2 separate regions of the Homo sapiens genome follow, and region 2 is linked to region 1. A link means that fine-mapping ties the variant in region 1 to the expression of a gene that starts in the linked region. Tissue or cell type: whole blood. Region 1 holds a variant in brackets; the other region holds the start of a gene. All regions are shown on one strand. Distances are from middle to middle.

The links. PIP is the estimated chance that this variant, and not a neighbour inherited with it, causes the effect.
Region 2: ZNF883 starts here. The variant in region 1 is the best candidate, but not a certain one, in a credible set for the expression of ZNF883 in whole blood (TOPMed, PIP 0.73).

What each region holds. Positions count from the first base shown.
Region 1 is chr9:113,031,151-113,036,541 of GRCh38, forward strand. No RefSeq gene overlaps it. Among named protein-coding and RNA genes, the nearest start is that of ZNF883, 22 kb to the left of the region's middle. The variant C/T (reference allele first, on the strand shown) is at 2,790.
Region 2 is chr9:113,009,159-113,014,549 of GRCh38, forward strand. ZNF883 (zinc finger protein 883) reads right to left here and starts at 3,034. Exons shown (of 5, transcript NM_001101338.2): 1 at 2,992-3,034; 2 at 1,983-2,069.

The DNA of each region.
Region 1 (5,391 bases):
TAGTGGTTAGTAATTCAGTCCTGTAAGAGTGAGAACTTGCTCACTTCAGCAAGAATTAACCCAGTCCCGGGAGAGTGGCATTAATTCCTCTTAACAACCTAATCACCTCTTAAAGGCTCCATCTCCCAACACCTCTACCCAGGGACCAAAATTCCAACACATGAATTTTGAGGCACACATTCAAAATATACCACTTAGATTAGGCAAAAGCATAAAGACAGAAAGTAGAATGGTTGTTTCCAGGAGCAGGAGGGTAGGGAGGATGAGGAGTTATTTTTTAATGGGTATAGAGTTTCAGTTTTATAAGAGGAACAGAGTAATGGAGATGGAGAATGGTGATGGTTGTACATTATGAATACATTTAGTAACACTGAACTGTACTGTTAAAAATGATGAAGATAGTAAATTCTATGTTATGTGTATTTTACCACATAAAAAATTGGAAATAAACAAATGCATTCTGGTGAATTTTTAAATGTTACTCCACTAGTGTATGATGTCTACCTTACTTTAAACAATGAAAGTAATTCTTACTGTCCAAAAACTCCGGGATGATCATGGTGTGTTGGATGTTCTGTTCCATGTTTCCTTCCACTCCCAGCTAGATATAAGGTGAGAGGAGGCAAGAATCAGACATTACATGAAAATGGTATTACATGGAAAAGGTATTAAATGGAAATTTCATTACATGAAAATGGTATTATGCATATGAGGAAAAAATATATATCAAATCTGTTAAAAGAAAACAGCTGAATTAAATTTAAAAGGAGTTTAATTGAGCAGTAAATGGTTCACAAATCAAGCAGCCCCCAGAATCACAGCAGATTCAGAGAGACTCCAGGGATGTCTCATGGTCAGAACAAATTTACAGACAAAAAAAGGGAAGGGACATACAGAAACTGGCAGTGAGGTACAAAAATAGCTGGATTGGTTACAGGTTGGCATTTGCCTTATTTGAACACAGTTTGAACACTTAGCAGTCTATGCGTGGTTGAAGTACGGCTGCTGGGATTGGCCAAGACTCAGCTATTGTTACAGGCCCACACTTCTAAGTTAGGTTTTCAATCTTGTCTGCCTATTAAGCTAGGTTACAGTTTATCCACAAGGACTCAAACACAGAAGTACAGAATCCTTCTCAGGCCATATTTAGTTCGCTTCAACAAATCTTATGTGCTGCAGACGTGTGCATATGTGCACTTACTGCAACACAAATGTATTTTATTATGCTACTTACTGCAATCAAATTTAGAATCCAAATATTGTCTCCAGTTAGTCAAATACGATCAAGACACATCTAAAAGAGGCGATTCTTATAGATTATTATAAACAAGAGATGTAATCAATCAGGAAAACCACACAGACAAGGAAATGCAAGGCACAAAAGATGAAGCCCTGGAAAATACCAACTGGCAAAGGATAAGAAGAGAAAGAGGTGCTGATGAAAGAAATAAAGGAGAAACAGAGGGAGCAGAAGATGAAGGAAGGCGGCGTCAAAAGAACAAATGGTGACATATTTCAAGGAAGAGTGGAGGATTAAATGTTAGATGCAACAAAAAAATCTGCTAAGTTAAGGACAAGAAAATATCCCTTGGATTTGATAACAGCAAGATGGACTTCGTATTATAGAAGTTGTTTCAGAGTAATGATGAACACAGAAGCTCTACTGCATGATACTGAAGTGTGTATGTGAACTGAGGAAGCAGAAACACCAAGATAGTATCAGTTTTCAAAAGCTTGTGTGTTGAGGGAAAGAAAGATGAGAATGCAGGTTACAAGATGGTATTTTTAATTTCAGAGAATTTAAGCAGGTCAAAGACTGATGTGGGAAAGCTCAAGATGATTTAAACGGGTCAGAGATTAAGCAAAGAAAACTACAGAAGAAAAGGAGAAGTAAAAGGCCTATAAGAGAGTGAATTCCTAGTGGACAGTGATCCCTGGGTATAAAGGAGGAAGTTTCCAAGCTACACAAGAGATCAAAAACAAGAGAAATCAAGAAAACAAAAATTGATTACATAAACAAATTTTAAATTCACAGTGGAACCAAAAACAAAGTCAAATTTTAAATTATTATTGAAGAAACACATTTCTTCAGAAAATTATAAAGGGATTGATCAAAAACCCAATAGAAAAAAGGACCAAGAAAGCCCAAGAGGTCCCTGAGGCTTTCCATGGTGCACTGTGCTCCTGGTTAATTGAGAATGGAGAATGGTGATGACTTTTACCAAGCATACTGCCTGTAAACATTTTGTTAACAAGGCACATCCTGCACAGCCCTAGATCCCTTAAACCTTGATTCCATACAGCACATGTTTCTGTGAGCACAGGGTTGGGGCTAAAGTTACAGATTAACAGCATCTCAAGGCAAAACAATTTCCTTAGTACAGATTAAAATGAAGTTTTTTATGTCTTCCTTTTCTACATAGACACAGTAACAATCTGATCTCTCTTTCTTTTCCCTACAAAAACTTTCCTGCACAATGTATGCGTTGAATCAAAGACTTTATATGGTGGTGTGCATCCACTGGGAAGAATACATCAGTCCACTAACCAAGAGATGAGAGTGGGAGTGGAGCCTATTTACCATCACTGCCAATGCCAATTCTAGTAAGAGGCACTAGTCCCTAAAGGGGGCACATTTTCACCAGAGGACACATTGTTAGTCTCAGTAAATTATAAACTATGGCTACTTCCTGGATACTTTGAGCTCTTTGTGTTCAGGGACCAGGAGGAAAGAGGAGGAGTCACTCTCTTGGTACAGGTAAATAACACTGATATCGGTAGGAAATGGA[C/T]TGCTATCGCACAATGTGGGCAGGGAGAAACACATGTGAAATCTAGTGATTAGTATCTCTCGTCTAATTTTGATATGAATGCACTGGCCCAGCAGCTCTGGACTGAGAAGGGCATAACGACCAATGTCTCAGGTCAGCAGAGTTGATAGCTGAGAATGAATAATGAAGAAGGGAGATGATGAGTTAGTTACCTATTGTGACCCTGAGATCAGTGTAGCAGCAGGGGCCGTGGTTCATCCCACTAATCTCCCTTTTCTAATTCCTCCTCAGGCATAGAGGCATACAGAAATCCTGGAGGAAGTACTTCCCAGACATATACGGATAATTATATCTGAGCCGAGCAAGGAATGGACTGTAATAGACACAGAGTTGCATGCCCAGATTCTCGTTTAAGGAAGGACTTGTTGCCTAGATGACAGGAGTGCCATCAGAAGACAACTTCTAGCTATCAGCTAGTTCACAGTGGGCCTCATCTACAGAGAGCTCCCTTACCTAAAGTCATGCCCTTTGCAAGACAGCCTACATCTTGTGAATGAGCAAGGTGGAGGTATAAAGCTCAAGGCAGGACACTCAGCTGGGGGAAACATTTACTCCAGAGCTCCTCTCCAGGTTGGCAAGGCTTCGTTAGGCTTGCAATAAAATTTCAACTTCTTCCTCTGCCCAATCCTCTTTCTCTCCATTCCTTTCATGGGTGTCGATCTCTAATAAATATCTGATAACTCCAACTCTGTTATTATTTGGATATAGTTTGTCCCCACCAAAATTCATGTTGACATTTGATTCTCAATGTTGTGGTGTTGAGAGATACAGGCTAGAATAGTAGTTGTATGGGTTATGGGGGATGGATCCCTCATGAATGGCTTGGTGCTGTTCTCATAGTGGTGAGTCCTCACTCTCATGAGACTGGATTAGGTCTCACAGCAATGAATTAGTTCCCATGAGAGTGGGTTGTTTTAAAGCCAGGACACCCCTCAGGTTTTCCCCTTTTCATGTATGCACTTCTCCTTAGGACACCCCTCAGGTTTTCCCCTTTTCATGTATGCACTTCTCCTTTGACCTTCTCTGCCATGTTGTGACACAGCACAAAAGCACTTGCCAGAAGCCAGGGCCATGTCCTGGAACTTCTCAGCCAGCAGAACCATGAGCTAAATAAACTTCTCTTTATAAGCAGTTCTTTTCTTTATATATACCCAGCCTCAGACATTCTTTTACAGCAACACAAAAAGTAGTAAGACAAACTCCTTTTCAACACCTGCCTCCAGGGAACTCAAACACAATTTTATTGTGGTCAGATAACATACTCTGTATGATTACAATTATTTTAAATATATTGAGACTTGTCTTGTGCCCCAATGTATTTCCTATCTTAGTGCACATGCCCTGAGCACTTGGAAAAAAAGGTATATTCTGCAGTTGCAGGTTCTATAAACATCAATTAGGTCAAGATCAAGGTTGCTGATAGCGTTCTTCAGATAATCATTGTCCTTACTGATTTTTCTCACTGTTCTATCAATTTCTTAAAGAGGGATATTAAAATCTCCAATTATGATTGTAGAATTGTTAGTGTCTCCCTTTAATTCTTCCAATATCTGCTTCATGTACTTTGGAGCTCTGTTTAGGTGCGTAGACACTTATGAATGTTATGTCTTTCTGTTGAGTTGATCCCTTTATATTTTTAAAGTGTTCCTTTTTATCTCTGCTCATACTAATTATCAAGGATTCTGTTCTGTCTGATATGAATATAGACATTTCAGACATCTTATGCTTACTATTTCTATGGTATATCTTTTTCAATTCATTTACTTTTAACATATCTGTGGTTTCTAAAGTCTGGATGTTGTAGAGATTGGGTCTCACTTTCTTAGCCATTGTGAAAATTTTGTCTTTGAATTGAAATGTTTAGTCCATTAACTTTTAATGTAATTATGGTTAGGGTTGGATTTAGCTCTAACATCTTATTATTTGTATTGTTTGTCCCCTCAGATTTTGTTCCTCCGTATCTCTCTTCATACTTCCATCAGGAACTTTTGAATATTTGTAGAGGTTTATTTTAATTTATTTGTTGTGTTTTGGCTATACCTCTTTGCATTACTCCTTAGTGGTTTCTCTATAGATTGCTTTATACATCCTTGGCTTTCACAGTCTACTTGAAATTAATATTGTACCATATCACATGAAATTTATTTTAAACTTGCTATAAGATAGGTGTGCCCTCCTTTCATTATGTAAACTTGTCATATGTATTGCATTTAATACCTTACATTCCATATAAGATAATAAGTTTTGTTATAAATAATCTGAAATATTTTAAAGAATTTAAAAACAAAAACCAGTCTTTTATATTTATCAACATATTTACCTTTTCTGATACTCATCATTGCTTTCTGAGGTTCCATCTACTATGATTTCCTTTCAACTTGAAGAACCATAGAGTTCTCTGGGTATACATTGTTTTAGTTTTCTTTTATCTGAAAAATGTGATTATTTCACAGTCATTCATGAATAATACTTTTTGCTGGATATAAATTTTGAGGGTGAAGGTTTTTAAATTCAGTTTTGTTTCTTTCCTATAAGAAGGATACAGATACACTGTCTTCTGGCC
Region 2 (5,391 bases), 22 kb before region 1:
ATTCAAAACCCTATGAAAATTGGTAAATTATATGTAAATCTTAATAGAGCTGAATAAACAATAACACCGAACACCATCACCTCCTACGTTTTCTCTTCTCATTCAGCATAAAAGCCAAACTGGCTGTGGCCATACTAGCCTGTGTGCTGTGTGGTCTGCACGCCTTACCTCTCTCATCTCAACTCCTACTGTGCTGCTATCACTCACCCCTCTCTGGCCACGTGGCCTTCCTGATGCTCCCACAAAGGTTAAGCACATCTGCACCTTGAGGCTTTGCATTTGCTGTTGCTTCTGCTGAGGAACTTAATCTCCCTAATCCCCCTCCCCTCCCCAAGTATCTACAAGGCTCATATTCCTTTTTTTTTTTTTGAGACAGAGTCTTGTTCTGTAGCCCAGGCTGGAATGCAGTGGCGTGATCTCGGCCCAGTGCAATCTCCACCTCCCAGGTTCAAGCGATTCTCCTGCCTCAGCCTCCCGAGTAGCTGGGACTACAGGCGTATGCCGCCACGCCCAGCTAATTTTTGTATTTTTAGTAGAGACAGGGTTTCACCATGTTGGACAGGATGGTCTCAATCTCTTGACCTCGTGATCTGCCTGCCTCAGCCTCCCAAAGTGCTGGGATTACAGGCATGAGCCATCACGCCCGGCCCATATTCTCATTTTCTATAATGTCATCTACCAGTGAAGCCTTCTCTTACTCCCCTATATTAAATAACAGCTGTCCTATGCCTTCCCTAGCCCCATTACTCTGGTATAGTTTCCTCTATTCATCACTATGAATGATGTTCAGTAGGTTAGGTGAATTAGTACATTTTTGAATTAATATTTTCAACTTACACATTTACTGGAATGTAACCTCATGCTCAGTTGAGGAACATCTGTGTTTACATTATTGTCTGTGTGCCCATCCAAGACTGTCAGTTCCACATAGGCAGAAACTTTGTGTTATTCACTGTTATATCCCAATGCTTAGAACATTAGCTGGCAAAAAGTAGGTGCTCAATGAATATTTATTCAGTGAGTGAAAGAAAGAAAATTTTCCCTCCCTCTGGACAGAGGTGATATTTCAGGAAATAAAAAATACAGCAGAGCTGCGTTACAGACACACATGTATATTTTATTTGTACAAATCTGCCCAACAGGCTCAAGAAAGTATGTTATCTAAAGGTAAGAGTGAGATGGGAGAATCTCCTGTTTCCTCAGTCTCACTTCTTACAGCCCTCTCGTAAGTGAGCATCTTGCTATGCTGAGTTATTTTAATGTTTAAAGAACATAGTCGGGGTACATTTACACATGTATATTATTGCATGGTTGTATACACATTACATGTGCATACACGTTATGAACTATTGTTCATAACAATGTATTCTTGAAAATTGCTATGAGAGCAGTTTAAGTGCTCTCACCACAAAAAATGAAAAGTACGTGAGGTGATGCATGTTCATTAGCTTGATTTAGCCATTCTACTACGTATACATATTTCAAAACAACATGTTACACATGATGAATATATAAAATTTTTATTTGTCAGTTATAAAGAAAAATTAGGCCGGGCACGGTGACTCACACCTGTAATCCCAGCACTTTGGGAGGCTGAGGTGGGCAGATCACGAGGTCAGGAGTTTGAGACCAGGATGCCCAACATGGTGAAACCCCATCTCTACTAAAAATACAAAAATTAGCCGGGCGTGGTGGTGCACGCCTGTAATTCCAGCTACTCAGGAGGCTGAGGCAGAAGAATCGCTTGAACCCAGGAGGCAGAGGTTGCAGTGAGCCAAGATCGTGCACTGCACTCCAGCCTGGGCAACTGGACGAGACCTTGTCTCAAAAAAAAAAAAAAAAAAAAATTGAGAGCAAATAATGAGCAATAAAAGAGATTATCAAGGGACGTTTAATTGCATATGATTTTTCCACACTGCAAGATGGAACTTTAGAAATTAAACCCAGCTTAAGGTACAAATGCCTTGAAAAGTTTTGCTCACCAAAGACCATGTAGTCAGGGGCCAGTGGTCAGGTCCTTCTTCTTGATGCCATCTTATATAAGTAAGTAGAGACCTGAGAAAGCAGAGCTGAAAAAGGAAAGGGGCCCTGAGAAATCAGGACTGTCTTTATGAGAAGCCTGTCTGACTACCTGGATATAACCCACACCCTCTGTAAAAATGTCAGAATGAATCTAGGAACAGATTCTTTCCCTGCAGAGTACAAAGTGAAAGGCCACTTACATTCCTCTCTCTGGTCACTGGTCCAATCTGACAAACCAGAAACAGGGCTAACTTTATCCTCCCATGATGGGTGGCACCGAGTGCACCAGCTCCCTCTTTGTTTGTTAACAATACTTGTAAAGCATATACAATTTTTCGAAGTGCATTCACAAATGCCATCTCAAAGAACAAACAATTGCTCTTCGTCGCCCGCAGAGTGTAGGGAATCAATTCCACAGTTCTTTATAGAAGAGACTTCAGAAATTTACCAGTAAAACGAAACAAGCTATCTCTAGAGAGGAGGTGAGTTTCTGAGGAAAGAGCAAGAACTGGATGTCGGGAAACCTAAATTCTAGTTGGCACTAAATACGTATATCACGGTTTTCTTGCAATTCCCAGGTCTACCTACCACCAAGGTCTGGGGTGGTTGCCCCTCCCCAGATAAACTGCCCCCCATCACAGTCAAAGCAAGGCCCAAAAGCTCTGAGCTCTGTTCTCATGACTCTCCAACCCAGAAGAGAACCCAAGCCCCTGACTGTTAAGGCTGGGATGAGCAGACACGGCTTTGCCTCCTCCTCACCCTGAAGCGGGATGCTGGCCCAGGTCACCACCACCCCTCCACTGCAACGTGAACCAAATACCCAGCCTGACCTAATCGGCTTTCCTCCGCCCCCGGGCCCGGCCAATGCATTCTCAGGCCTCTCCCGACCCGCCCGAATGGTTGTGTTTGAAGGGGACCTCTCTCCCCACCTCCCACACGAGTGCAAGGGTCGGGAAAGAAAAAGCTCACCTGCTCCACCGAAAAATAAAGAGCACGGTCGGGCGATGTGGTTCCCAAGCCAGGAAGTACGCCTGCGCACGCGGCCGCCAGGAACTACATTTCCCAGCATCTTCTGCAAAGCGCCCTCTTGAGCTGCGTCTTTCACCGGTGTCTTTCTAATGCTTTGCGGGTTGCGAACGTGCGTCGTTTCCATCGTTGTTTACATGAAAAGAAGAAAAAAGGAAAAGATTTTTTCTTTTGCTATAAACAACTGTAAATCCAAAGAGATGCAAAGTTTGCGTTAACAACACCCCAGACACAAAAGTAATACCTATTCACTACATTAATAGATGATTTATAAATAACTCTTTATTCAACAGATAAAAAACCAAACTACCCAGATGGATTCATTGCAGAAATATTTATTAACGCAGTGATTAATATTTTTTAGCATTCTAAAAGTAAATCTCTGATTTATAGCTAGCTTCTTTGTTATGAGTGTGTGTTGAGGGGACGGTGGCGGGGGGGCGGGGCGGGCAGAGACAGGGGGCAGAGAGAGAGACAGCGAGCAAGCACCAGAGAGATTCCATCCAAGAATGAGGTCATACTTTTGGGGTAGATTTTTTTCTAGCTTTTTTCTTCCTGTTAGGAACTTAGGTTATGATCCCTTCAGTGCTACCAAAAATAGTATACTGATGAACATCCTTGTAGAGTAATCTGTTCACTCCTCCACATCTGTTCTTGACAAAAACGTCCGAAAAACGAATATAATGAAGAGGGAATATGTATATCTAACTTTTTTCTTAAACAAACGAATATAGATAGATAGACAGATTGTAGATAACAGAGAATAGAGGTAAGGAAAAAGAACAAAATTAGTCAGATAAAAGTTCACTCCAAGATACTCCCTATTATATATTTAAATATGTAATTTCTATGCATATATATACAAATTCTGTATAATTAGATATTCTCAAGTATAAAACTATACATACTTTAAAAAATTGCTTTATTGAGCTATGATTGATATAACTGTACACAGTTAATATACACAACTTGATGTGTTTGGAGGTAAGTATATATACCTGTGAAACCATTAAGCCATCATGCCATCAATCCCATAAATTCATCTATCACTTCCAAAAGTTTCCACCCCTTTGGGCTTCCCCCACCTTTTGTGGTAAGAACACTTAATGTGAGATCTACCCTCTTTACTTATTTTTAAGTATATAATACACTATTGTGAATCATAGGCTCTTTATGGTAAGAAGACATCCAGATCTTATTTATTGTGTATAAATAAATACTGAAACTTTGTACTCTTTGACCAAAACCTGCCTATTTCTCCCTCACCAGCCCCTTCACCATTTTACTTTCTGTTTCTATGTATTTCCCTATTTTTGATTCCACATATAAGTGAGATCATGCAATATTTGTCTTTCTGTGCCTAACTTCTTTCACTTAGCATAATATCCTCCAGTTTCATCCATGGTGTCATAAATGACAGGATTTCATTGTTAATAAGGCTGAATAATATTCCATTATATGTATATACCACATTTTCTTTACTTGTCCACCAATAGATATTTAGGTTGTTTCCATATCTTGGCTACTGTGAATACTGCTGCAATAAACGTGGAAGTGCAGATATCTCTTTGAGATCCAGATTTCCATTCCTCCGGATATATACCCAAAAGTGAGATTGCTGGATCAAAGGGTAATTCTATATTTAGAGGTACATTTATATTGATTTCCATAGTGGCTGGACCAATTTACATTCCTACTAATAGTACACAGGGTTTGTTTCCTCTACATCATCTGTTATGTATTTATTTTTATAATAGCTATTTTAACAGAAGTATGGTGATAACTCATTGTGGTTTTGATTTGCATTTCCCTGATTACTAGTGATACTGAGCACTTGTTCATATACCTGTTGGCTATTTGTATGTCTTCTTTGGAAAAATGACTATGCAGATGCTTCACCCAATTTTAATTGGGTTATTTGTTTTTTGCCATTGATGCATAGGAATTCCTTTGTCAGGCAGATATTAACTCTCTGGATATTAACCTCTTATCAGATATATGGTCTGAAAATATTTTCTCCAAAAAATAAATTCTGTTGGTTGCTTTTTTATCTTTTTATTTTGTTGTTTCTTGCTGCGCAGGAGGGTTTTTGTTTTTTTTGTTTTTTTTTTTTTGGTTTTGGTTTTTTGATGGAGTCTTGCTCTGTCGCCCAGGCTGGAGTGCAGTGGCGTGATGATCTCAGTTCACTGCAACATCCACCTCCTGGTTTGAAGCGATTCTCCTGCCTCAGCCACCTGAGTAGCTGGGATTACAGGTGCACGCCACCACACCCGGCTAATTTTTGTATTTTTAGTAGAGATGGGGTTTCACCATGTTGGTCAAGCTGGTCTCAAACTCCTGACC